Regions from separate parts of the Homo sapiens genome. Here regions 2, 3, 4 and 5 are each linked to region 1. Evidence: fine-mapped expression QTL. A gene starts in region 1. Each other region holds a variant in brackets. All regions are shown on one strand. Distances are from middle to middle.

Region 1 (5,111 bases):
TCTAGTTTTTGGAGGACTTGGGGGAATTCATTCAACGGTTTGCATGAGTATAGAAGTTAGTTTTTAAAATTACTTTTTTCACATTATCATAACTATGTATGTTTATAAAGACACAGTTCCCTATACATGAGTAAAAATGTAGATTCAAATTCAAGGTAGTAGAAATGGGTGTAAAACAATCATTTAACTATGATTATGTTTCATCAACATAAGGTCATTAGGTCATTCTTTATAAAATCATGTTTAGAGATAGAATTCTCCTTTCAAGGTAAATTTTATGCACAATACCAATATAAAAGATAGTTCAAAGAAGAGTTATTTGGTAAAAGAAAGGAGCAGAAACTGTGCCTCTTCCCTTTCCCAGTCACGCTTCACTTGGGCTCTGAGTCATCTCCAAAGAACCCATGGGCTCCACAAGTAATTTTCAAATAACTGGACTATGAGATCTCCAGAATCTTATCTTACTGAAATTATCTCATGTCCATTTCTATCCTATCAGAATATATGATGGTAAAAATGTAAAATAGGAAAAAACTTGATAGACATCTGTAATATAAAATAATTACATACTTCTCAAATATTGCAATTTGTAACTTGTTTTGATGGTAGTCTTTAAAAACTAATGCAATAAATACATTGGACTTTATATATTATACTTGGGATCCTTCTAGAAACAAGTCCCGTCTTTTAAAGACTTATGAACCAGGGATTACTGTAGGTTTGAAATTATTCCCTTAAGTTCATACTGACTTAAAGAGTATTATCTAGACCCATTCTTAATTTTTGAACCTTAGACAAGAATGCTAATGTCTTTTTTCCACACCCCAAATTCTACTATAAACAGACACTATAAAGTTTGTAATGCCAAAAATGCTGGACCTTGAAGCCAAGAAATGTAGATTCAGTTCTGGGTGTTAGTATTGAAGTTTGTCTGTGATACAGTTTTCTCTAAAATGAGTTTACTTACATCAAATAAGGTTGCAAGTATTAAATGAAGTAAAATAATATATATTTATATTGTAGAAAATGTTATTGTTATTTTGAAATATTACTATGAAGTATCATTTCAAACCATAACAGTAAAGTGTTATTTCATATTGGCCAAGTGTTTTAAAAATCTAATAAATGTGTATATTTTACAAAAGTAGAAATGAGTATTTGCAAAATAGTTAGATTATAATGAAATGTGATCATATATGTATGGAATTAAAATATGCAAATGGAAAGACAGCTACTAGTTTAGAACAATGCTACTTGCAAGTTTCAGACACATCTTGGGCCAGTGAACAAAAACATCTTCTGATTAGATGCAAGGATACTTACAGAATTAAGTATCTGATAGTTACAGAATTATCTTAAACTTTCCTTTTCAGGAAACACACAGGAAATACACACACATGCAGGGTTCAAATGTGTTAAAGTAAACAAGGTTAAAAAAATTCCTTAAAAAAATAGGGTGGCAACTATAACTTCCAAGGTAAATTCCAAATTCAGTACACTCTGTGCAAGTACCTCCAGTTGTAATTAATATTCTTCCCAGGCTAACCCATTATCTGATGGTTCTCTGTTTGGTTTATTGTTCTGGTTCACTAATGAGTCTGGGAAATTAAATGATTTCTACTTTAGTTCTTATTTTCTTGTAAATTCCAAAGGACCACTGGACTTTCTATATAACAAACATTTTTAAATATTTCATTTTGGCTTCCTTGTGAACCAATATTTAAAGCAATATTTTTTAGCTTCAACACACATTACTGACTTCAAACCACACAGAAAAAGACTAAAAAGTACATGCAAATCTTTACAAAACAGGTTTCAATATGCTACTTGATGATTTCAGAAACTGGGATGTACTCTAGAGAATTTATGCCATTTACAGTTATTTATAATTTTAGTTAATGTATAATTAATTTGAGGCTTTTACTTAATTCCTCCAAATTGATTTCTCCTTTACTTCAACTTGGCATCATCATCTAATAATTCAGTACTATTTGTAATAAGCTTCCTGAATCGAAAAAAAATTAACTTTATTTTTATTCTACTAATTTACACTAATTAAATTTCAGATTATTTAAAAGTAATATACTTTGCTATTCCCAGTAACAATGACAATATCTTTGTTCATTACAGAAAAGAACTTAAAAAGCACATATCCAAAATACACATTGCATTTGATCATGTAGAGCAAGTCAGGTATACCAAAAGTTGTGCAATTCAGATTGAAAATTAAACAAGCTAATGACTCTGTAAAGTAATAGTTAATAATTGCATATTAGACAACATGTTGACATAAGAGCTGTAAGTCATTTATAACATCTAACCTCATTATATTGGTCTGCAGTATAATGATCTTCATCATTTAAACATCATGTATAAATAGCCTAAGTATAAAATGAAAGTTTTATAATAATCCAAATTGGATTATAAATCACTTTAAATATTAACTTATACATACGACATGAAATGCCATTGGGTATGGTTTAAGCATAAAATATAGGAAGGTTGATAACTTGAAAATAATGCAAACCTGATTTTTAGATAAAGCCTAGTGACTAAGAAAACAGTTACTACCTTTTTTCCTGTCCTCCTATATAACTTCTTAGGAGTATTTATACAGTAGTGTCACCTCCCGTCATCTGGGTGATGGGAAAAATCCCTTAATCTTTTTTATTTAAAGAAAAATCATACAACTTACCTTTAAAATGGCTAAGAAGGATTTTTCAATCAAATGCTCCAACATTTGGACAATTCTTAATAGGATCAAATGGTATTCTGCAGGAAAGTCCTACACTGCAGTCCTCAGTACATAAATGCGTGAGAGTTTAAATATGCAACCACACCCCCTCCCCCCCCCAAAAAAAGAGAAGAGAAAGCACTCTACAGTGTCAGATCCCAGTGTGTGGTTTGTTGCCAGAGGAATTGAAAGAAAAAAAAAATCCCCCACACAGCACATTACTGATATGGCTAATAAGGGTCTATTTTTATGTTCTGGTGAAGACCCATTACCTATATCTGAGATATTCAGCATTTTTTTTTTTTTTGGCTATTTCCCATCCAAGTAAGTCAGAGGCCAGAAAAACAAAAGGAACTGACTTGCTGAGTTTCCCCTAACATATTCTCAGATGCTGAACTGAGACCGCTGGTGGAAATAGTAAATTTGGAAGAATAATCATATTCTCACTTCCCTGTCTTGACTGAGCTTGCGAAACTTATTTTATTAAGTTTAAATTTAATGTACTTTTTTATACAGCGTAATTCTGAAATACTGTGAGACTAATAATTCTGAAAACAATTGGAGACTGTCAATCAGCAAGGATGACAAACTGACTTAAAAAAAGGAAACAGCCTATTGTTCTAGCTGGAAGTTCTTAACTGTTTATCATTTTCTGTTAGTTTTGCAAAAATTTCATGATCACAGCACAGTGCTCCTACAAAAAATAAACTCTTTAAATTTCTTCAACCAAAATATGTCTAAGTAGAATTACTATTGAGGATAATCTTTAGTACTTAAGTCACTTTCAAAAAAAAAAAAAGCATTATGTTGATATTGAATCAAAATAGAAGGCCTTGCACTTTGGGGAAAGAACCTTCACTATCAAGACCCTGTTCTTATAAAGAAATTCTCAGAATCATACAGGAAAACCTTCACAGGGTTAACCTGGCATGTATTTGATAGGAGAGCTGGATAAATGCATTCAAACAACCTTAGAAGTAAAGTAACCTAAGAATACCAGACAGAAATATATTTAGTTCATTAGGTCATATTTAAACCAGTCCTTAAGTTAGAATGCTCGTGCTGTCCTTTTTGGGCATGTGAGGCACACAACGAATCCTTTCATTTGCAAGCAGTGCCATACAACTGAAAAAAAAAACCCCAAACACTCTTTTCTCCTCAAGAATTTTTTTTCCCCAGGGAAGTTTTTACTGACATATTTATTTAAAAAATAAGTCATAAAAATATTGTAAGTCTATTACTTTTTTTTCAAATCTCAGACCACTTAATTAGGATAAAGTAGAAATGACCATGTGCAATCTCTTTATAATTTATGCTTTCAGTTAGAAAAGAATAACTCACAGTGATTTCATGAAACTTAAGAAGGTAATTCCCTTAAATAACTGCGACCTTTTATCTTGGTGGCACGATATAAAATGGTAGTATAAAGACATATTATTTTGGTTAAGAATATCTATTTTGTAGATAGCTGTTTTGTATTTAAGCTAATTTATTTCTCAACCTTAATTCTCACACACTCACACTCTAATATGACAATTCAGAAAAAGATTACCAACGAAAGGGTTCAGATAAGACCTGTTTAAAAGAGCATATTTTAAAGATATTAAAAGACTAAAGTATAATGAAAATATGATCGCAATTAGAGAAAGATTATTTCAGAAAAAATACATGCAAAATAGATGCCTAAGTTGACATTAAACTTACTTGGGTATTATTTAATCAGTAGCCTAATGCCATTCAAATCTGCTGTCACTGGAGAGGAAAATGTCACAGAGTCCCATGAGCAGTCCAAAGAATCAAATTTACATTCCCAGAGACAGCTGTTAAGTGTTCAATCCCATAGACAACAGTTCCTGAGTAGCTTAGCATACAAGATCTGAAAGCACACAGCTGAGTCAAATCTGCAACTGTGGATTTTTAGAAAAATATAGACCTTAAACAATAACATAGCAAAATGCTGTACCCATTTTAAAGTAAAGAGTGTTGGGGTTTTCATTTTTTTAAAGACTATGCACCCACCATATTTTGAAGGGATGTGTTTTATGTGAGCATATACCTTGCTTTATGTAAATCCACTATAACACTGGATTAATTTATTAGAATGACAGGATATAATTTTCAATCTACTTCAGTCAGTTTAGACAATTCTTTGGAAATTCTTTTTTTTTTTTTTTTGCAAGAGATCACATAGGGTTAGAAATTGGAAGGATGTAAGTTTAAATCCTCAGGCTACCGGGCCCTAGTTATATTGACTTGTAATTGGAAGTTAACTGCTTGTTCTTCTTTTTCCAGATTTATCAAGGTATGAATCATTTTGACATGTGTATACACTGTAAAATGATTGCCATAATCAAGTTAATTAACATTCATTGCTCTC
Region 2 (5,111 bases), 25 kb before region 1:
ACTAAGTTTAAGAAATGTTCAATTCTGTTTATGTTTTGTTTGAACCTTTTATCTTATTGCAATGTACCTGATGCCATTAGGTAGCCAGATCATAAAATAAAAACTGCCAGGTGTTAATTAGAAACATCTTGGAATAAGAAAAAAATTAAAAACATTTATCAGAAACTTAGATCTCTACTTAGGGGAAATTTTTTTTTTTCCAATGGGATACATGAATTACTCAGTAGTATAAGTGTTCAGAATGAATAGAAGGAAAGTGTTAAGTGGGTAACTGATATAAGCTAAGTACAAGGCAGGCAGAAGAGAGAAGCAGGGAAGAGGAAAGAAGCAGATGTTTGGATCAGCAAACATTCAAAACATGTAGATGATTAATTTATATTCTTGCCCCTTCCTCCCTTTAATTCTCCCATGGACTGGCGTTAAAGTAGGAAAGAGTTTACTAACTTATACTTTGCTGTCTAAATAAGCTATATATATCTGGAAGTGATAAAAACAATAGTAATAGTTTCCCTGCATCCTCACTTTTTGGTGATGGAAAAACTTTTTTTCCACTCCTGACAGTGACATGTCAAGACAAGCCATTGCTTAAACAAAATAAGTGGTTAATCATGTTCAGTCTTGCCATGAGTTAAATCAACCTTACAATCTTAAAATGATGTGAAATTCTTACTCTAACTAGGAGTGCTTTGCAACTCCCCTCCACATCTCTCTGTAATATTAGAGTGAAATGCTCGTTATTTCTCAATATAAAAAATTGCTGTGATTTCCTTTTAAGTGAATACTTAGAAGTGTTTTTTTCCCTCTACTGACTTTTTCTATAAAAATATGTAACTGTGGACTCTTTAGAAGAAAAAGTACTCCACTAGTAATATTTAGCTGTTAAAAGCAATCATTAGATAGACTCAGTTTGAGGTAGGGGTTACTTTATATTAATAAAAACATTTCATCTCTTTTGGTTTTGATCACTTTATTCTTTTTCAGAAAAAAACTAGTCAAACACACAATTGTTAATTTTATGGAGAAGAAAGCTTGTTCCTCTGATATTTATTAGGGTTCTTCCTAGTTTACATATATGATAAATTATAAATTCTTTAGGTGAATAGGCTGGAGCTAGAAAAAAAAAAAGGAAATAATGGCTTAGGAAGCTGATTTGTTATTTTACCACTTTAAAGTTGGCAAAGTCTTCATTTTCACATTTTGTATTTACATTGTAGAACTGCACTTGAAATATTCATTCTATTTTTGCATTGATAAAGTTAAAAAAGCTGAGTTATCAATATGGAAAATTATTAAAGACTATTTGCAGGGGGAAGGTCATGAAAGCAGTTGCCTGGATTCATTAAGCTTCCATCTTTATAGACACATTTAGGTCATGCCACTGGAATATGGAATTCGATATGCTCGATTTAAAAAGTAAAAAAAAAGTTTCCATCTACTACACAATCAGTTGATGTGTTGTTTTTTTTTTTTTTACCTTTTCATTTATGGTTATCTAATTGTAAGAATAATTATACTGTAATGCTGGATAAGTAGCAGAGATGAAAAAATAGTCCCTTTGGGGATTTATGTAACACAACCATAACCTGTGCAGAAAGGTGAACCAAACCTTAAAGTGGAGCTGATAGTCAGCAGCTATGCACTGGTGTGAACTCACCAGTTACCACAACTAAAGAGTTAATACCTAGCAGAACAGGAGTTTCCAGAGCTGAATTATAACCAGGTCTGTTCTATAGGTTGATGCCTATGTCTTATGAGATGTTAAATGAATACTATTCCTGCTTAAGAGTACCCTAGTAACATACATGCACATTTTACCAGAATACTTACCTTTTACCTTTATATGTGTCGATTATGGCAACTTTACTTATGTTATCTTTTCCATTGAAAACTTTATAAACTCCATCTGCAGTATTGTTGTACTGA[A/G]ATATATGTATGGGAAAATGTTACTTCTACAAGTCATTTTTTCAAAGTTGTACAATACATAACTCACTTTCACATTTCTCAATCACTGGTTACTCAAATGACTTGAAATACATCTGCAATACATTTTTTTAAATTATTGGCCTTAAAAATTGTGAAAGGTGCCTAGAAATAAGTGCTAGATGCTGTGACAAAGAAGATACATATCAGAAGCTGACATGATGTGAACTCTAGCACTCTGTCATAATTAAGCCAATGAGGGCATTTTGATCACTATTCTTACTATGTTGAGGTGAGGGACATTGAACAAACCTATAAGAACAATGATTTCTAGGGGTATTCTAAATGTTACAGTCATTAATAAGTGGTTACTAAAATGATAATAAGTGGTTACTAAAATGATAAAAATTAGACATCCAAAAGTTAAAGCATTAGCCAAAGAAAGAGCTATGAGTATTGAGTTAAAATCAGAATGAATTTGATTCATTATGGCTTTCTACATTCATTTATAATTGATATATAACCTTGTAATCCTAACAGTATCTAAAAGTAAAACAATGAACTAGAGAACATAATATTCACATATAGTGCCAAATGAAGTCATAGTCCAACTTCCAATTCAGTAGTTAGCTTATCCTATTTGTAATTCAAAACATTAAGCGGTAATCAAGTACACCATCAAGTTCACATTTTCCTTAATCTTCAAGCTGCCATTTCATGACATTATGGACTACTAAAAATTCTTATTTACAAATCCCATTAAAATGAAGTCTATTACCTTATCAGTATTGAGATGTGAACATTAGGCTAACTTTTAAATATAAATTAAAATTGTAAGAGGTCTAGAAAAGGAGGAATGAGGAGTATATTTAAAACAAATAAAAATATGGTATTAAACTTGATTATGTGAATAGGGAAATAAAAGCCAAAAACAGTGCTCAAAGATTTACAGACTAGCTTACCGGCTAATTTAAAAAAAATTGTGTATTTATAAATGAGTAGAAACCTTATTAAATCTATTCTTCAGGTTTAAATTTAATTGTTAAATTCAGATGAATTTCCCAACTAGGAAAGCTGAAGCTATAATGAGAAGTGGACTTTTTAAAAAGTTAGGATATATGTCTCCAGATCAGCAATAAGACTAATGAGCTAAATTATAAAATTATGCCTTGCCAATGCCATTGAATTAATTAAATTAAAATGTAATAATATTGCCATTCATATTTGGTACTTACAGGATAAAACAGACCAACTGTGGTAGTAACAGGGTACGGAACCAAACTCAAAAATGGATCCCTATAGCCCCATAACAGTTCTCTCAAAGTTCTGACTTGGAACATAGAAGATTTTGACTTGTTAATAAGTGAATTGAGGATCATTTGAACAAATTGATTTTGATAGATATGGGATGCAGCCTACAAAAACAAAGTCACTGTTTAAGACAAGAATACAATATTAGATTTTAACAAATAAATGGATTAAATGCTAATATTGAGCTTAATACAAAACTTTTTAAAGCTTATCTTTAAAATTACTGCCAGATCCTGCCAAAACTCAAAATGCAATTCGTCTAATTCCTAGATGATTACATTTCTTTGCCTCAGTGCCAGCCACAAGAAGACGACATTCCAAGTTAAGCTCTATTTATTTAACGATACACTTAAAGTGGTCTTCTCAAATATCTAATGCATTAAGGCATACGGGGCTTAAAACCTAGATGATGGTTTGATAGGTGCAGCAAAGCACCATGGCACATGTATACCTATGTAACAATCCTGCACATTCAGCACATGTATCCCAGAACTTAAAAAAAAAAAAAGCCATAAGTCTGGTCCCAAAGGCGCTGGAGCCACACGTGACAGAAATGGCGCAGACAATTGTTGCAGGCGTGTTCATCACAACGGCAGGTTCCACGTCTAACGGCACGAGGCTCTCTGCCAGTGACCTGACCAATGGTGCGGATGAAATGCTGGCCACAAGCTCCAACAGGTCTCAGTACAGCATCTCCAGGGTGAAGACCCCGGTGTCCCAGGTTGGGGAGGATGAGGAGGACTACGATTTCGACGAGGACAACTGACTTCCTCTCCACTTCAATTTCAGCTTCAGGAAAATGTTTAGGAAAAGAAACTTCTTTTTTTAATGTGGGTTTTCTGTTTCCTTTTGGCCTACTCCCAAGAATATATTGGTAAGCTATTGAATTTAGATATGCACCTCCGATAAGCAAGGATTGTTTCCCATAGAATTAGGATGTGCTGTGGATGTGTGGTTTGATGCCAGTGTGCTAATGCAGAGCCTTCATATACTTTTTAGGATTTTGTGTTTCCGTTTTCTATTTTTCTTAAAATGCAGAGTTCATATTTGCCCCTTAAGAGTTTTTGCTGAGCTTGCTGAAGAAATTGTACTTCATCCACATAAATGCCCGCCTGTTGTGAATGGTGAGCACCAAATGCCCTTTATTTGCCATGAATTTGGACGGCACCCCCTGTTGGCGGATAGCTAGACTCTGCAGAGTTTTGTTTATTCAGTGGTGTGGTCTCTAGAGCCCCAAGCAAATAGCCGAATTCGACTTTCCAAACAATAGACACCATCAACCTTATCGACTTTATTTTCCCTTAAATTATATTGACAGTTGTGATTCCATCAAGTTTATATACTCTTTTTTTCTCCCCATTTTGCAGCAACAAATTGCAAAGTGCTTTTGTTTGTTTGTTTGTTTGTTTTTGTTTGGTTAAAGGTTATTGCCCACTGGTACAGCTACTGGTACACTGTCTGGAAAGCTCGGAATGGTTTATTGCTTATAGTAAAATTTGCCTGATTTCTTACAGGCTGCGTTTGGAAACCTTTTATTATATAGTTGCTTACATACTTAAAAGTCTTTCATTTAAAGACATACTGAAACAAATGTTGTACTTGTTTCTTAAGCATCTTCCTGTAATCTGTTATAAAATTGAAATTAAATATAGAGAATGTTTCGACAAAAAATAATGAAAAAAATAAAGTGGTCTTCTAATGCAGTCGATTCTTATGATTTTGTCACTTTCCAAATGACCATGCCTCCATTCAAAATAATGATATAGGAATACGTTTTGATAAAAATGGAAAAACAAGTAAAACCTAATAATTCTAATGATAGGATTAATTACATGAGTTCTAGAGTATTTTAAAATAGATAACTTTGTTGTTTGTCTACT
Region 3 (5,111 bases), 32 kb before region 1:
CTATCACCCTTTTTTCTAACACCTCTATTGGTGTTAGTCATCAGTATCTATAAGGCAAGTTAATGGAATTCCTTTTGCAAGTCAAGAAAGGCAATTAAGTGCCAGATAGAGTACGGTACTCTTCAATGTACTAGGATTCATTTGCTCTTCAGAACTATCAAAGGGTCAACAGTTTCATTTGCTCCAAAGACTTATTCAATGTTTTTCCTATTTTTATAGCTATCAATGCATGGATTTATAGTAAAAATACCTTGTCAGGCAATAGAAGACAAATGTTACAACAAGAAAATGTGTTTAATAGATGCATTTTTGAAGAAAATCTTAAATGATAGGAAATGTTTTTGTTCAATTGGATCATCTCAAATAGGTTAAATAAATGTATACTCATCCATATGGGTAATGGAAATACATATAGCTTTAAATACTATACATTCTTTTGAAACATCAAGAGCTTGTTTATATACAAAGAAGGTTGTTTTTAATGACTAACAGCTGCAAATACAAACCTCATTAAGCCAAAGAATAGGCACAATATAGTTCCTCTTCAGATTCTTTAATACTCTGTAATATACGTTGAAAATAATTATGAACATATAAACTAATATTTATATATAACAAACTTTAAAATAAATGTTCATAAATTAGTTGCTGTTGCTAATTTGATTTTGTTCCTGTAATGACTCATTTAAATTTTAATATAGTTGTTTTTGACTTCCTTTGCTCTTATATGTCTTCTAATCACATTGATTTTTTTTCACAAGTGTGGATTTTTCCTTTCAATAAATTCTCGGGGAACTGAAATATGAATTCCAAAAATTAATTATTGTCATAGAAATATTTGGGCAGCTAACAAAATAAGAGATGCTATCAAATGCTCAAATAAAACCATAAAACCATTCCAAAATCTGTGAAATTAGTCATAAGCATTTAATAATGATTGGTGACATTAAGCTAAAGATAAGTTGATATCAGATGTTATTTCCACTTACTTACATAGATTTACTCATGTTCTTACAAGAAGATACTACGATACTACAGATCATATCAAAATAACCATTTTCAAGAGACTCACTGAATTTTTTCTGATGGCTTGACCAATAGGTTGACCTGCAGCCGTTTTGCAAATTGTAAAGTGAATCCAGTTATCTAAAAAGAGAACAACTAAATAATTACCAACTTTTAAAAACATTATTTTATACTATTCAAAACTTATTTTTCTTACAGCAGAAGAGAAGGTAGTAACTTAAGGTTAAACAGGACTAATTGAAACTTTTAAAACTGCATATATAGTTATAGTTATATACACATGCATCCATATAGATACACACAATTTATTTGCCCAATCGAATGTCAAGGTTTTAGTTAGTTAGATTTGTGAGTTACTTGAAATGGTTTTTAAAAAATCAAAAATCAGCAACAAAATATAAGATCTCAGATAATTCCTGGTCAAATATATATTCAGTTAGAATCCATGTGTCATTGTTTAAACTAAAACATAACTACTAAAATCCTAGAATTTCATTTACTTTTTGAAAAGGAAAATACAAAAATAAAGATGATTAAAACTGTTGCGCTACAACAATTTTATAGATTTTGACAATAAGTATAGTCAAACTCACATATACTCTTTGACTTTTGCATAATATACAATAACTCCTCATCTAAACATAAATATTTATATAAAATTATTTTAAGCCAATTAGAATCACTTCATAAACCATAGGAAGAAATCGACCTAAGTTTCAGTAACTTTCAAGAATGTGATTCAATAAATATGATTATTTATTGAATAAATAATCATCGACAAGATTATTTTTATTTCAATTGTATTTTTAAAAATATCAACCAAATCAGATCAATAAGGTGTTTTCTTACAGGTTCAATATCCAAGTATGTCCTATGTTCTTCTTCATTTGGGTTTAATCCATCAATAGGTTCTGAAACATCAGGACTTGCATACAGAAAATGAGGAAGTGAAATGTACACAGGTCTCCCTGAAGACAAGTTTTAAGAGTCAATTGGAATTAATAACTTCCTTCATTTCACATATAACTCAAAAAATATTTCCACAAAACTAAAGCTTCTTGCATTAAAAAATACATGGTTTTTAACATGGGTGGGGAAGAATTATGTCAGTTGATTTCTACTATAAACTCCTTCAGTATTAATTTTCAATATGTAAAGCTTTCAGGCAGTAATATGTCTATGGACTAAGAATTTATTTAACACTAGTTTTTTCTTTCTTCTTCCACACCCACGTTAGTATGATAAATATGTACAGGATAAGCTAGTCTCCAAATTTTATGTTTAACTCTAGCTTTAGATACATACTGAAAATACATTTACCTGTACCATTTTCTAGTGAAAAAAGTTAGGACAGATGAATAACAGGATGTTTAATGTGTTCTCGGAATTATTTTCATTTCACCCTAAATCTAAAAGCAGCCACAAGGAAATACTGGTGTGGTTTTAACTAAATTTTGTAATACTGAAACACAAGTGGGATCTTCCCAAAATACAAAATCAGCACTAAAATTTTCTGCCACCATTCTTTCTTCTGCCCTAATTACTTTCTTACTTTAATTTTAAATTTTGGTTGCTAAAGGATTATGGTAAAGTTCTCATTTTAAAGAATATCACAAATTATGATATATTTTAAATTTTGGTTGCTAAAGGATTATGGTAAAGTTCTCATCTTAAAGAATATCACAAATTATGGTATGGACTGTGCTACTGAGGTTATTTACTCACCTTCTTTGCATTTGCTGATGTCTAGCACACC[A/C]TATGATGTACAATTTTTTGAGATAATTTTTTCTGTGCAGAAACAATAGTTGTCTGGGTTTTCAACTGGAGAGGCAAAGGCCTTGGATGGAAGAACAAATCTATACACAGGGATTCCTTTCAGATTAACGTCGGATTCAAATACAGCATAGATTGACCTAAATACAGAGAAAAAAGAGCTGCATTCCAGGAACCTGAACTTACATTCTGGAGATTCATTTTTTCTTATTCTTGTTTTAACTTAGAAACATCATATACTCTTTTAAATTCTTGTTTCATTCTTAGAAAAAAAGTGATTGGGAAATTTTAACACATACTAAAACTCAATAGCCAAGCATGAACTATTCTTGTTTGTGAAGTACCATGTTTATTTATACTCAAGTTACTTCTCACAGGCAATTTATCCAATAGAGTAAATATTTATAGGACTTCCTTCAAATACTTTATTTGTGATCAGTTTAAATGAAATAGTTTCTTTCACGGCTTAATTAATCCTGGAAAGAAAGACCACTCACTGGAGTGTATGCATATACATGCTGGATATATACCTGGTACATTTCCATCGTTTACCAAGTGTCTATCATAGGGTTCAATACACATATTTTTCTTATCCCCAGATACACGTATATGAAGAAATACTGCTGTCTTAAATTGTACAGATAAGAAAAAAATTCAGAGATGTTAAATGCCTACCCACAAGCATACAGTCTTTAGGGACAGAGCTTGGGCTCAAGGGTAGTGGTAAAGGCTCCAGTGCTTGTGTGTTATCTACTGGGCCCCACAAATCTGAGCAGAGCACATTAACACAGTTCTGTTACATTTGCATCATCTTCTCTGTATGTCTTTAGAAAGATTGGGCACGCCCTTCTGGACTTGATCGTTAATAGACTACTAGTTTAGTTTTTAAAAGGCAAAATGGTTCTTGCTTAGATAGAAATGGCAAAAAAAAAAAAAATTTGTACTATTAAAAATTGGAAGATGCAGAAGAACATTTTGCAAAGAGTTAGTTAATAAACATGATGAATTTCCTATGCTGTGTTTAAGTTTCTTGGTCTGCATTTTGTCACCTGGGGTCTGACTCAGACATACTTATACTTCAGTATCTGTCTTACCTGCAAATATCAGAAGAAAAGAACTGCAATACCTGGCTTTTCTCAACAAAAGGTGGAAATGAGGCTGCATCTGTTTAAAAATCGAGTGGCAAATGATTAGATGTAATGTGTGTTCTAGAAAAAAACCTAGAAATCTCTCCTCCAGTGTAGTCCATAGAAATGTAATGCAAACTGCCTAAGTAATTTATCTAGCAGCCACATTTTTAAAAGGTAAAAAGAAATAACCGGCCAGGCATGCTGGCTCATGCCTGCAAGCCCAGCACTTTGGAAGGCCAAGGCGGGTGGATCACCTGAGGTCAGGGGTTTGAGACCAGCCTGGCCTACATGGTGAAACCCCATCTCTACTAAAAATACACAAAATTAGCTGGGTGTGGTGGTAGGCGCTTGTAATCCCAGCTACTTGGGAGGCAGCTATCCTGAGGCAGGATAGGCCTGCCTCAGCTATCCTGAGATAGGCGCTCGTAATCCCAGCTATCCTGAGGCAGGATAATTGCTTGCACCCAGGAGGCGGATACTGCAGTGAGCCAAGATCATGCCATTGCACTCCAGCCTGGGCGACAAGTGGAAAACTTTGTCTCAAACAAAACAAAACTATATTTAACTTATTAATATCCAAAATATTTTAACATGTAACCATTATAAAATATTTTAAATTCTTAAAGTCTCAAAATCTACTGTGCATTTTATATTTACAGCACATTTCAAATCATACTAGCCAGATTTTGAGTCCTTAACAGTTACATATGGCTGGCGGCTGCTATTGTCAACAACAAATCTACATACTATACATATTTAATGGTACAAAATAAAAGAAACTTAAACATGAAATGTTAAGGCTAACATTGTGTTTGTTTTTTGAAATGCCCTACCCCACCAGTAGAGTGGCACTTTTCTTCCAGTGAAGTTCATTTGGATCTCCTGCCATGTCCACATTTATTTGTAGTGATTTTTTTTCTCATTTGTCCTAATGGCTGATTACTACTTCTAAAAATATTTACTAAAGTTCTCTCACTAAACAGAACTTCAAATGCTTTGAAAGTGTATAAAAAAGTCATTTATTGAATTTACTTTTTGCTACAGCTATGATCCATGGCAAACATTGGATATATGAAGAAATAGTTAACTCCTCCATGTACTTCTCACATGAATATCACTAATACGAGCCGTCATTGAATGAGTTTTAAATGGTAAGTCTCATCTTTGATTATGCATTGTAGG
Region 4 (5,111 bases), 67 kb before region 1:
AAGGAGGGACTCTTACCAACCCCTAGGTTGAATGATCTCTGTTTACATACTACCTCACCTCAGTCACAATGGAGGATCCAATTTTACGTTGATTATGAGTGGAGAGGAAAAACAAAGGTATTAGAAACTGCAGCTTCACTTGGGTAAGGGTGAGACGGACACAGTGTGGGAGCATACTCTTGTATGGTTGTGCTAAGTTGGGTTTTTAGGCTTTCTAACGCTCATCAAGATAGTCTGCTTGCAGATAAGATAAAGTGTGCTCACTTAGGTTGCCCTTAAAGAGGAACAGTTAGGAGACTTTCTCCATGTCACAATATCCTGGATACCTTCTTTTAGTGTTTTAATTTACATATATGATGAAAATTAGTTGATGACTTCCCTTTTGTGGCCATACTTCTTGAAAGAGTTTCATATATGTTTTAAATACTTAACACTTCACTCACTCTTTAGCAATCTGGTTTCCTTGACCATGACTCTACTGCAATTGCTTCCCTCCACAGTCTCTCACAAGGATGGGGGCTGCTCATCACCAATGCTTCTCCCTAAAGCACACTCTTCTCTTACCTTTTGTGACTGTTCTCCTCTTCCTCTTCCTGGCATTCTTTCTAAGTCCTTTGGAAATGCTGCTTCTTCCAGCCCCATCTTTAAAGTTAACGCTCCTTGGGACTTTGTTTAGACTGTTTTATTATTTATTTATTTATTTTTTTATGCTATATTCTTCCCCTGCATGATTTCATTCATGTCCATGGCTTCAGTTATGTCTTTATCCAGTTGTCTCTTTCTCTCTTGAGTTATACTTCTACATTCTATATGCACCTAGCAGTACTTCTAAGGCTGAACACATCACTTCACCCAGCCAAAACCATGTCTACTTCTGTGTTGCCTATGTCATGTTACCCAACTATCTAATCTATCTAAATATCTAATCTATCTAAATAAAAATCCTCTTATATCCTACAAATCGATCAACAAGTCCTGTCAATTCAACTCCCTCAATGTTTCTTGATTACTGTCCACTTTCACTGTGAACTTCTACTGCCTTTGTTCTGATCACTAATATATTTTATGGAACTTGTTATAACATCCTTCAGTAAATGTGTTACACAATAGCCAGAATGATCTTTTAAATATTATCTGGTTGTGTCATCCTCCTTCCTAAAACCCCCAATGTTTACACCTCATCCTCAACAAGTTCAGTGATTCTTAGCCTGATTTACAGAATCCTTCCTTGTTCACCCCACTGTTCATCTCAGCTTCATTCTTGCCAGTCCCTAACTTGTGCTGGAAACTACAGCCATATGAAACTTGTTTTTGCTCCTCCAGTGAATCTCACTCCTCTCTAAGTCTTTTCATACTATGTTAATTCTGCTTAGAATTCCCTCTGATTTGGTTTCATTAACAACTATTTTTTCTGATGTTTCCTGTTTTTTTTTTTTTTTCAATTTTCTCAGTCTGATTTTTCCACAGGCTTCTTGCCCTTCCCTGATTATAACAGTGTATCACAATTTCCTACTTGCTTGTTTGTATCCCCACTAAATTGAAAGCAACTTAAGTTGATCTTATTCACAGCTGGGTAAGGGAAGGAGCCATCCACTAATATAAAGAATAAAAAGAACAGGATAAAGAAAAGTAATTCATTTTACACATTTCTATACTCCATTATGCTTCTGGTGTATTTTTTTATGCTTCTACTTTTATATTAACTTTTTATGGAAAACTAAAAACAGCACAATTTTTATTGAGCAAAGTTATTAAGTTGGGCCTCAAAGCCTAAAAAAGAATAAGAAATAACTGTTTGGAATAGGAATTGTGACTTTCAGAAGGAACAGTAAGAAATGTTGAGATTTTACTTGATGGCCTGAATACAATTTGGTATCAATCATATTTCCCCATAGATCACATACAACTTTTGAAAGTGTTGGGGACTTAAGAACACCAAGGAGAAGCCGATACATGTCCTTTAAATATAAAAGCTGAGAAAGGAAAATCAGTATGCAGATGCGTTGTTAGAGCCCATAGGAGAACACTGCTGTTTCTCTTAATTAGAAAATTCAAGAGAGTTCTTATTTTGGAATATCTTTGTTTTTGTAATTGTGATATTTTAAAAATTTGTAAATATAACAATCTCTTTTGTGTTTCAGCTTGGTATCACTCATATTACCAAGTCTTAAATGCCCAAGTTTGAAAAAAATATTTTAATAAATTTTATTGTCTATATTTAAGGTATGTAACATGATATGGGATACATAGAGACAGTGAAATGGTTACTAGAGTGAAGCAAATTAACATATCCATCATCTCACATAGTTACCCTTTTTTCAGTGTGTGTGGCAAGTGCAGCTAACATCTACTCATTTAGCACAATTTCTGAATACA[G/A]TATATTATTATTACTATTATTATTATTATTATTTGAGATGGAGTCTCACTCTGTCACCCAGGCTGGAATGTAGTGGCCCAATGTCAGTTCACTGCAACCTCTGCCTCCCGGGTTCAAGCGATTCTCCTGCCTCAGCCTGCAGCACAGGCGTGCACCACTATGCCTAGCTAATTTTTGTGTTTTGAGTAAAGATGGGGTTTCACCATGTTGGCTAGGCTGGTAGTAAACTCCTGACCTCAGGTGATCTGCCTGCCTTGGCCTCTCAAAGTGCTGGGGTTACAGGCGTGAGCCAATATATTAACTCTAAACCTCATCTGCATTAGATTGCTAGACTTGTTTACCCTAATATCTGCTACTCTGTATCCTCTAACTTACATCTCCCCATTGCCCACCCCTGCCTTCCCCCACCCCTGGTAACTACATTGAGAAAATATTTCTGAACATAGCCTTGGAAACTATTTACATGTATTATTTCCTGCTGGGTTGTATTATATCTTAATATGCTCAAATAAGCCATTTATCTCCTCTATTAAGTTTCTTTTGTGTTTGTCTTATCTCACTAACTAGAAAATTACTTCCTTGAAGACTTCCTTATTTATACATCTCTCATTTCTCCTAAAACAAATAGGATAGTTCCAGACACATAGCAGATATTCAATAAATATGCTTTGATTAAGTTAATACATTTGGAATCTTTCTTCTGTTTAATGTTTGCAGTGTTAATCACCATCTGTGGTTCCATTAAATCATTATATAATATGAAAAGCAAGCACACTACTCTGATGATGCTCTCCTTTAGGTCTGTGCCTCACTAAAATTCAGAGACTTGTGGGTCAGTTTAGTTGTAACCCTGTACACACACACACACACACACACACACACACACACTTTCTCTCTCTCTCTCTCTCTCTCAGGTAGGGCAACACTGTAAACACACTCTCTTTCTCTTTTTCTCTCTCTCTCTCTCTCTCTCTCTTAGGTGGGGCAACCCTGTACACACACACGTGCACTCTCTCTCTCTCTCTCTCATACACACTTAATGGGCTGGCTGAAGGTGAAGGGTAAAACTGATGTTGATTTTCTTTAGGTATAAAATATTGCCCCTATTGCCCCTTCCACGTCTGATGCAATAGACCCACAAGTCTATTCTTCAGACATGATATGTGTAGGTTTTAAACGCTTATTTATCTTTTCAACATTTTTTATGACTTCTATATTGTCTGCCTCCAGCAATTCTTGTAGGAAATAGAGACAATTGTTCTCATTTGTGAAAACTCCATGTTAAAGCAAAATAAAATGTTTGGGGGAACACAAAGGATGTATAGTTACCTTGTACCTGGGTGAAAGAAGTGGGGAAGGGCAGAAAGTTCTTCTCTGCAGAAATAGCTGGCAGAAGTCTGAAAGATGAACAGCAGTTCTGGTTTTACTTTTTCTTTTTCTTTTTTCTTTTTTGAGACAGTGGAGTGCAGTGGTATGATCTTGACTCACTGCAACCTCTGCCTTCTGGGTTGAAGTAATCCTGCCACCTCAGCCTCCCAAGTCGCGGGGATTACAAGCGTGCGCCACCTCACCTTGCTAATTTTTGTATTTTTGTAGAGATGGGGTTTCACCATGTTGGCCAGGCTGGTCTTGAGCTCCTGGACTCAGGCAGTACTCTCCTTTTGGCCTCCCAAAGTGCTAGGATTACAGGTGTGAGCTGCCATGCCTGGCAAGAGTTCTGGTTTTCTACTGTATATCAAAGCATCCTCAATTTAGTGCATAAAACCACAATGATCCTTTATCATTATTATCTCTCATGGTTCTGGTGTGGACTGGACTCAGGTAGGTATTCCAGATGGGAGTTTCTGTTTATGGACTGAATGTTTGTGTCCATCCCTCACCCCCAAATTCATAATTGAAACTCTAACCCCCAAATGTAAGGTATTTGGAGATGGGGCCTCTTGGAGGTAATTAGGGTTAGTTGAAGTTATAAGGGTGAGACTCTGGTCCAATGGGATTAGTACTGACTATAAGAAGAGACACCAGGGCTAGCTCTCTCCCTCTGTCGTGTGAGGACACAGAGAGAAGACAGCTGTCTGCAAGACAGGAAGACAGCCCTCCGCAGAGCCCAATCACGGTGGAGCCCTGATGTTAGACTTTCAGCCTCCAGAACTCTGTGAAAATAAATATATTATTTAAGCCACCCAGTCTATAATATTTTGTTATGGAAGCTGAGCTGACTAGCACAGGAGTCTGTTGTTATAATGGGGTGGTGATTGCGGCTGAAGTCATCTCAAAAGCTTCCTCACTCACATGTTGAAGTGGGTTGAGAAGATTCATACAGCTGGAGACCAGATATGGGGTTCTGCAGGCATTTCTCTACCTCTATATGGCCTGTCTAGCATGGTGGTTTCAAGATAGCCAGGCTGATTACATAATGACCAGTGCTCCAAAGGGACAGTCTGAATAGAAAGACAAAGCCAGGCAGAAGCTGCGTCACCTTTTATGACCTGGCTAGGCAGTCATGCAACATCACTTCTGCTGCATACTAATAGTTAGAAGTATCTGCCTGCATTTATATGGGTGCTGGTCAGAGAGAGGAGGAAAAAGGAGGCTTATTGGGTAAGAAGCAGCATGGTGGGAGAGTGATCATAGAACATTTGAGTTATATCAAACTTATTCTTACAGTGTTATTCAAGCCACCAGATCCAATGAAATGCTTTTTTAGTCCTTATCTCACTTTGATACTATTAAT
Region 5 (5,111 bases), 150 kb after region 1:
TAAGTGTAGTTCAGTTATGGATCTGACCTTGGCTTTTCCTAAGAACGTAGGATTTTAAATTGGCTCTTAAGAAACAACATAGTATACCCACCTTAATTTAAAAAAAACAAGGCTCAAAGATTAGTTGGTTTACATTAAGTAGCTCAAGTTTATGGAAAAATCCACTTCTCCTGGATTCCATTATAGTGCTTTTTGCTATTCAAGGATTTAATGATTAGAAATATTTATTTTTTCCTCTTAGGCAATAATAGTTACAAAAATAGACGTACCCTCTGAATTCCTTTGAGAATGATTTAATGATGTTTAAATTTGTAGATGCAATACGGTATTCCATGCATTTGTGTCAGAGAAGTTGGAAATCACAATCTTGCCTATTGCTACTTATTTAAATAGACTGTGTCTTTCATAGAACCCAGAGTTTGTGAAACAGTGACGCTCTGATCACTAAATACTTGATATTTGACCAGATATGGTGTCTCATGCCTATAATCTCAACATCTTGGGAGGCTGAGGCAAGAGGATCGCTTGAGCCCGGGAGTTCCAGACCAGTCTGAACAATATAACCAGACACTGTATCTATAAAAAAAAAAAAAAAAAAAAAAAGGAAAAGAAAAAGAAAAAAAAATAGCTAGGCATGGTGGTGTGTACCTGTAGTCCCAGCTACTTGGGAGGCTGAGGTGGGAGATTCACTTGAGCTTGGGAGGTTGAGGTTGCAGCAGCTGTGATGGCGCCACTGCACTCCAGCCTGGGCAACAGAGCAAGACCCTGTCTTGAAAAAAAAAAAAGTGAGATGAGAGATTTATTAGTAAAAGTCTTAATGAGTTGACATATAGGGGAAGTGAAAATAATAAACTCTACACATTGCTGCCATCATGCTAATTAAAAAATAAAAGTACAGTTCATTCAAACTGTACATTGAATGGCATAAACAGATCAACTTAAGCAGCACTTAGCCATTGTCATAACTTCTCAAGAGTACCTATATTCTCAACTATCAGAACATCACAGTTGTCAGGCACGACATAGTTCATATTTTGATTTCCACTTATGTGAACTCTATCAGTTTCAGCTGCATTCTAGTACTTGGTTTTGAGATTAATATACTCTTGACCTGTTTAAAATTGTTTATTTAACAGATTGATTGCTAAACACTACCTACATGTGACTTTCAGAGTTCTGGTTAGCTCTCAATTATTTATTTATACAAGTGCATATACTTTTATATAGCCATTTGCACATCATCACACAGATTGCCAAAGAGAGAAGTTCTGATAGAAAATTTATGTGAGCTTTATTAGTCACTGGGTCTATAAGTTTGGACAAGTTAACCTCTCTAAATTTCAGTGTCTGCTTCCACAGAATGTTATGGCTTTCCTCCTTGAGTTACAATGACTATTAAAGAAGGAAGCAAAAACATAAGAAATCCACTATATACAGAGTATTATAGAATGTACATTTTCAGTAAATATTAGGTATTATTTTTCAATATTTATTTTGAATATAGGATCATTAAAATTTAGGTAGTGAAATCTATACATCCAACATCATTTGAAAAAATTATTTTTTATTAAACTATTATTTATGTGGTAGACATTTAGTTGGACACCGGGGATGTAGTGAGGGCTCAGCAGTAACTGAGATGGAAATAATATTTGTCATCAGGAGAGGAGAGCTTGATGTTTAACAAGTAACTACAAATATGCTATTTCAAAAAGGCTGTGCAGCTATATGTGGAGCTCAATCCTTGCTTAAAGAAGGAATTACTAAGAAGGGGAACACTAACATTAAATGAGGATGGAAAAGAACTAATTAGTTTGGTTTTGGAATGAGTTTGTAAGTTCTATTTGATATCTACATATGTAAGCAATTACAAATGTGCATTTGAAGCCCAAAATGGACACTTTGTCTAGAGATCTAAATCTAGGTGTTATTGGCATGCCATTATAC[T/A]ATGGCATATAATTCATACTAAGAAAGTAGGATGGAATAGGTGAAGGAAGCACTTAGATTAAGAAGGGAAGGGTATTAGGGATAACAGAGTCTAGGGAAGAGTGTTAAAAAAAAAAAACACACAATATTTTCTGCTCATTTGTTAGGAAAAGAACCTTCAAGGGAGAGGACAGAAGAGTAAAAGGAAATCAGAAGTATGCGAAATCACAGAATTCAAGAGAAGTGTTCCAAAGGGAATTATCCACATTGAAAGGTCTTGAGAGGTCAAGAAAGGAAACTATTAAATAGAATCTATTGGATTTAGAAATATGGAGCCATTGGGAATATAGTGAGAGAGGTTCCAGAAGAATGGTGGACTCCTACTCCTGTGGAATATGTGGAGAAATGAGAATAGGCTATTGGAACAGTTAAGGACAATATTTCAGGACCTATAGCCAAGGAGTAGGAGAGAGATGGGATATGTAGTTAGAGGGGAAGCAGCTAAATCGGGATTGTTCTTATTGGTTGTGGTTTAGTATTTGATAGGCTTAGAATTTCCTAAGCATAGAACTTGAAAAGAGGGTTAACAAACCCTCTTTTTTTGTTACCTATGTAACAAACCTTCATATCCTGAAGAAATAGGAAAGGAGAAATAATGAAGATATTTAGTAAATATCTACTTATCCTTTTGAATATTATTATATCCTATTTTGGAGCATATAGAATCCACTCAACTGACATAAAAGAATGCTGAAAATTGTAACACTTTTACTACATAATTTGAGCACTGTTGTAATCATCTTGGACATAGAACCCTACAAAGTAAACTCTACAATATGAACCAAAAAGCACTGATTCCTCAAGATGTTCTACAATTGAAGTTCTGTGATTAGATTTGTTTGGTATATATGCGTCCAATAACTTGGAAATTTTCAACCAATATTACTACTCAAAGATTCTGAAAACCGAGTAGCCACAAAACATGGTATTTTTAACTCAGCATTTCTCACAATTACTAGGTAAACTATATAGTCTTCCTTTCTTTTGATATTTTTTTCATGATATTTGGAAATATGACTCTAGGGTTCAGAATAAGTTCCACAAAGTTCTAAGACCACCTGGGATCCCTAATATTAACGATGAAGTTCTGAGTAATCTGTAGGGAAAACACATATTTTATTTTCTATACAATGTAGTCCCAAAGTTACACAATCTTAAGAGAATGAAGATGAGTTGATAGGTGCAGGAAACCACCATAGCACATGTATACCTATGTAACAAACCTTCATGTTCTGCACATGTATCCCAGAACTTAAAGTAAAATAAAAATGATGAGTAAATAAAATAAATATTCTTTAAAGAGAGAGAGAGAGAGAATGAGCCATTCCAGGCCCACTGTAATTCCCAAGCTTTTCCAAATACCTCATAGGGAAATAAAACTTCTTTGGGATGCCACTCAAATCCACAGGGTGTTATTTGAAAAATGTGGCAGAAAGGATGATTAGAGAAGGCTTCATTGAGGAGGTGGTATTGGGAAGAGACTTGAGTGAAAAAGGAAGTGAACCACCGAAGGACATGGAGGCAACAACCACTGAAATGCGCTGAAATGAGGGCTTGGTGAGTTCAAGGAGCAACAAATTGTTCAGTGCATCTTGAGTCTTGGTGGCAGGGAGAGAAAGGGAGAAAGGAGGGAAAGAGGGGATCAAAACATGTAGAACCTTGTGAGTCACAGTAAGGGATAAGGGATTTGGGTTTTATGTTGAGTTTTGAGTTTGGTGAGAAATTACTAGAGTTTTTAAAATATAACAATAAAATAGGAGTTAAGTGTTCGATCAGTTTGGCCGTTATGAGGAAGCTAAGTTTTCATAATACCTATACATTTTGGTGTTATATATTTTAAAAATTCACATTTGATGGGTAGGCTCAATCCTTTAAAAGCTTTAAGGAATTTTAAATTTAAAGAATTGTAATTCTTTAAATTATACCAGCTTTTCAATAAGCACAGAAGAACATCAAGAATGGAAATACACTATGTTCAATAAAGTGTTATTTATGGTTAAAAAAATAACAACTGTATATTGCCAGAAATTCTTAATGCAGTCAGAACAGTTGCGTCACCTTGAAGCTTTTAAAAACTACCTTTGCAGGGCCTGACATGCAAGGATGCTGATTCATTTTGTTTGGGTTGCAGTTCTGCTATCAGTACTTTTAAGGGTACACCATATGCTTGTAATGTGCAGCCTGGATTGAAAATCATTACCGTAGGCTCCAACTATGCACGCACAAATTTAAAAAGTAAAAGGTCTGGAGACACAAAAACCAACCTGATAGGATAACTTGCCTTTGTAGGAGGTAGTAGGATTGAAGTGGTCAAGGGAGACTTTGTAACATTGAAGTGTTTAAACTAGAACTATATTCATGATACCTCTACAAATAAAGTATATTGAAATTAAAAATAGAATATTTTTTTAAAAAGGAAGGACAGGTATGGTGGTTCACGCCTGTAATCCTAGCACTTTGGGAGCCCGAGGTGGGCAGATCATGAGGTCAAGAGATCGAGACCATCCTGGCCAACATGGTGAAACCTCGACCCTACTAAAAAAAAAAAAAAAAAAAAAAATTACAAAAATTAGCTGGGTGTGGTGGTGTGCACCTGTAGTCTCAGCTACTTGGGAGGCTGAGGCAGGAGAATCGCTTGAAAGTGGGAGGTGGAGGTTGAAGTGAGCCTAGGTTGTGCCACTGCACTCCAGCCTGCATGACAGAGCAAGACTCCGTCTCAAAAAACAAACAAACAAACAAACAAAAAAACAAAAAAGAAAAAGAAAGAAAAAAGAAAAAGAAAATAAGAAAGAAAAACAGAAAGAAATGAAACAGTATATTTGTTTGGTTTGTAAAGCTATGCTGACAAGATATATAATTTTTTCTCCTTAGGGATAAAACTGTGTAGTGGTTGTTTTATGGCATCATTCCTCCTAAACAGCACTTTAATAGTGGAAGGAGCCAATAGCATGATGCTAGTGAAAGTGACCAGAGCATATTTCACTGAACTTGCAGTTCTCTTTCATATCCATTTAACAGAGAAATGGGGTTTTAAAAATCTATCCTGTGTTGATGCAGGAAAATCAGGTTGAGACTTGATATGGCCATTTGTTGACAAAAAAGCCAAACTCCGTAAAATACTTGAA

Alleles and levels. Positions count from the first base shown, and alleles are read on the strand shown. Sizes are in standard deviations (SD) of each study's normalised expression. Not every link is listed here.
For the expression in whole blood of the gene that starts at base 2,800 in region 1, A is the high allele of the variant in region 3 and C is the other (large effect, 0.83 SD a copy in GTEx).

The links. PIP is the estimated chance that this variant, and not a neighbour inherited with it, causes the effect.
Region 2: its variant is fine-mapped to the expression of CD36 in whole blood (TOPMed, PIP above 0.99).
Region 3: its variant is fine-mapped to the expression of CD36 in whole blood (TOPMed, PIP above 0.99). The same link has a PIP of 0.9 or more in blood mononuclear cells, macrophages, stomach, sun-exposed skin and tibial artery.
Region 4: its variant is fine-mapped to the expression of CD36 in whole blood (TOPMed, PIP above 0.99).
Region 5: its variant is fine-mapped to the expression of CD36 in whole blood (TOPMed, PIP above 0.99).

What each region holds. Positions count from the first base shown.
Region 1 is chr7:80,636,331-80,641,441 of GRCh38, reverse strand. CD36 (CD36 molecule (CD36 blood group)) reads right to left here and starts at 2,800. Exons shown (of 15, transcript NM_001001548.3): 1 at 2,696-2,800.
Region 2 is chr7:80,661,214-80,666,324 of GRCh38, reverse strand. It overlaps CD36 (CD36 molecule (CD36 blood group)), which reads right to left. Exons shown (of 15, transcript NM_001001548.3): 6 at 3,156-3,335; 7 at 1,828-1,919. Among named protein-coding and RNA genes, the nearest start is that of CD36, 25 kb to the right of the region's middle. The variant A/G (reference allele first, on the strand shown) is at 1,924.
Region 3 is chr7:80,668,805-80,673,915 of GRCh38, reverse strand. CD36 (CD36 molecule (CD36 blood group)) reads right to left here. Exons shown (of 15, transcript NM_001001548.3): 9 at 3,894-3,963; 10 at 2,752-2,939; 11 at 1,876-1,994; 12 at 1,073-1,146; 13 at 507-561. Among named protein-coding and RNA genes, the nearest start is that of CD36, 33 kb to the right of the region's middle. The variant A/C (reference allele first, on the strand shown) is at 2,783.
Region 4 is chr7:80,703,560-80,708,670 of GRCh38, reverse strand. No RefSeq gene overlaps it. Among named protein-coding and RNA genes, the nearest start is that of CD36, 67 kb to the right of the region's middle. The variant G/A (reference allele first, on the strand shown) is at 2,377.
Region 5 is chr7:80,482,125-80,487,235 of GRCh38, reverse strand. All of the region lies in intron 3 of GNAT3 (G protein subunit alpha transducin 3), which reads left to right. It overlaps LOC107986812 (a long non-coding RNA gene), which reads right to left and starts at 769. Exons shown (of 3, transcript XR_001745252.2): 1 at 649-769. The variant T/A (reference allele first, on the strand shown) is at 1,948.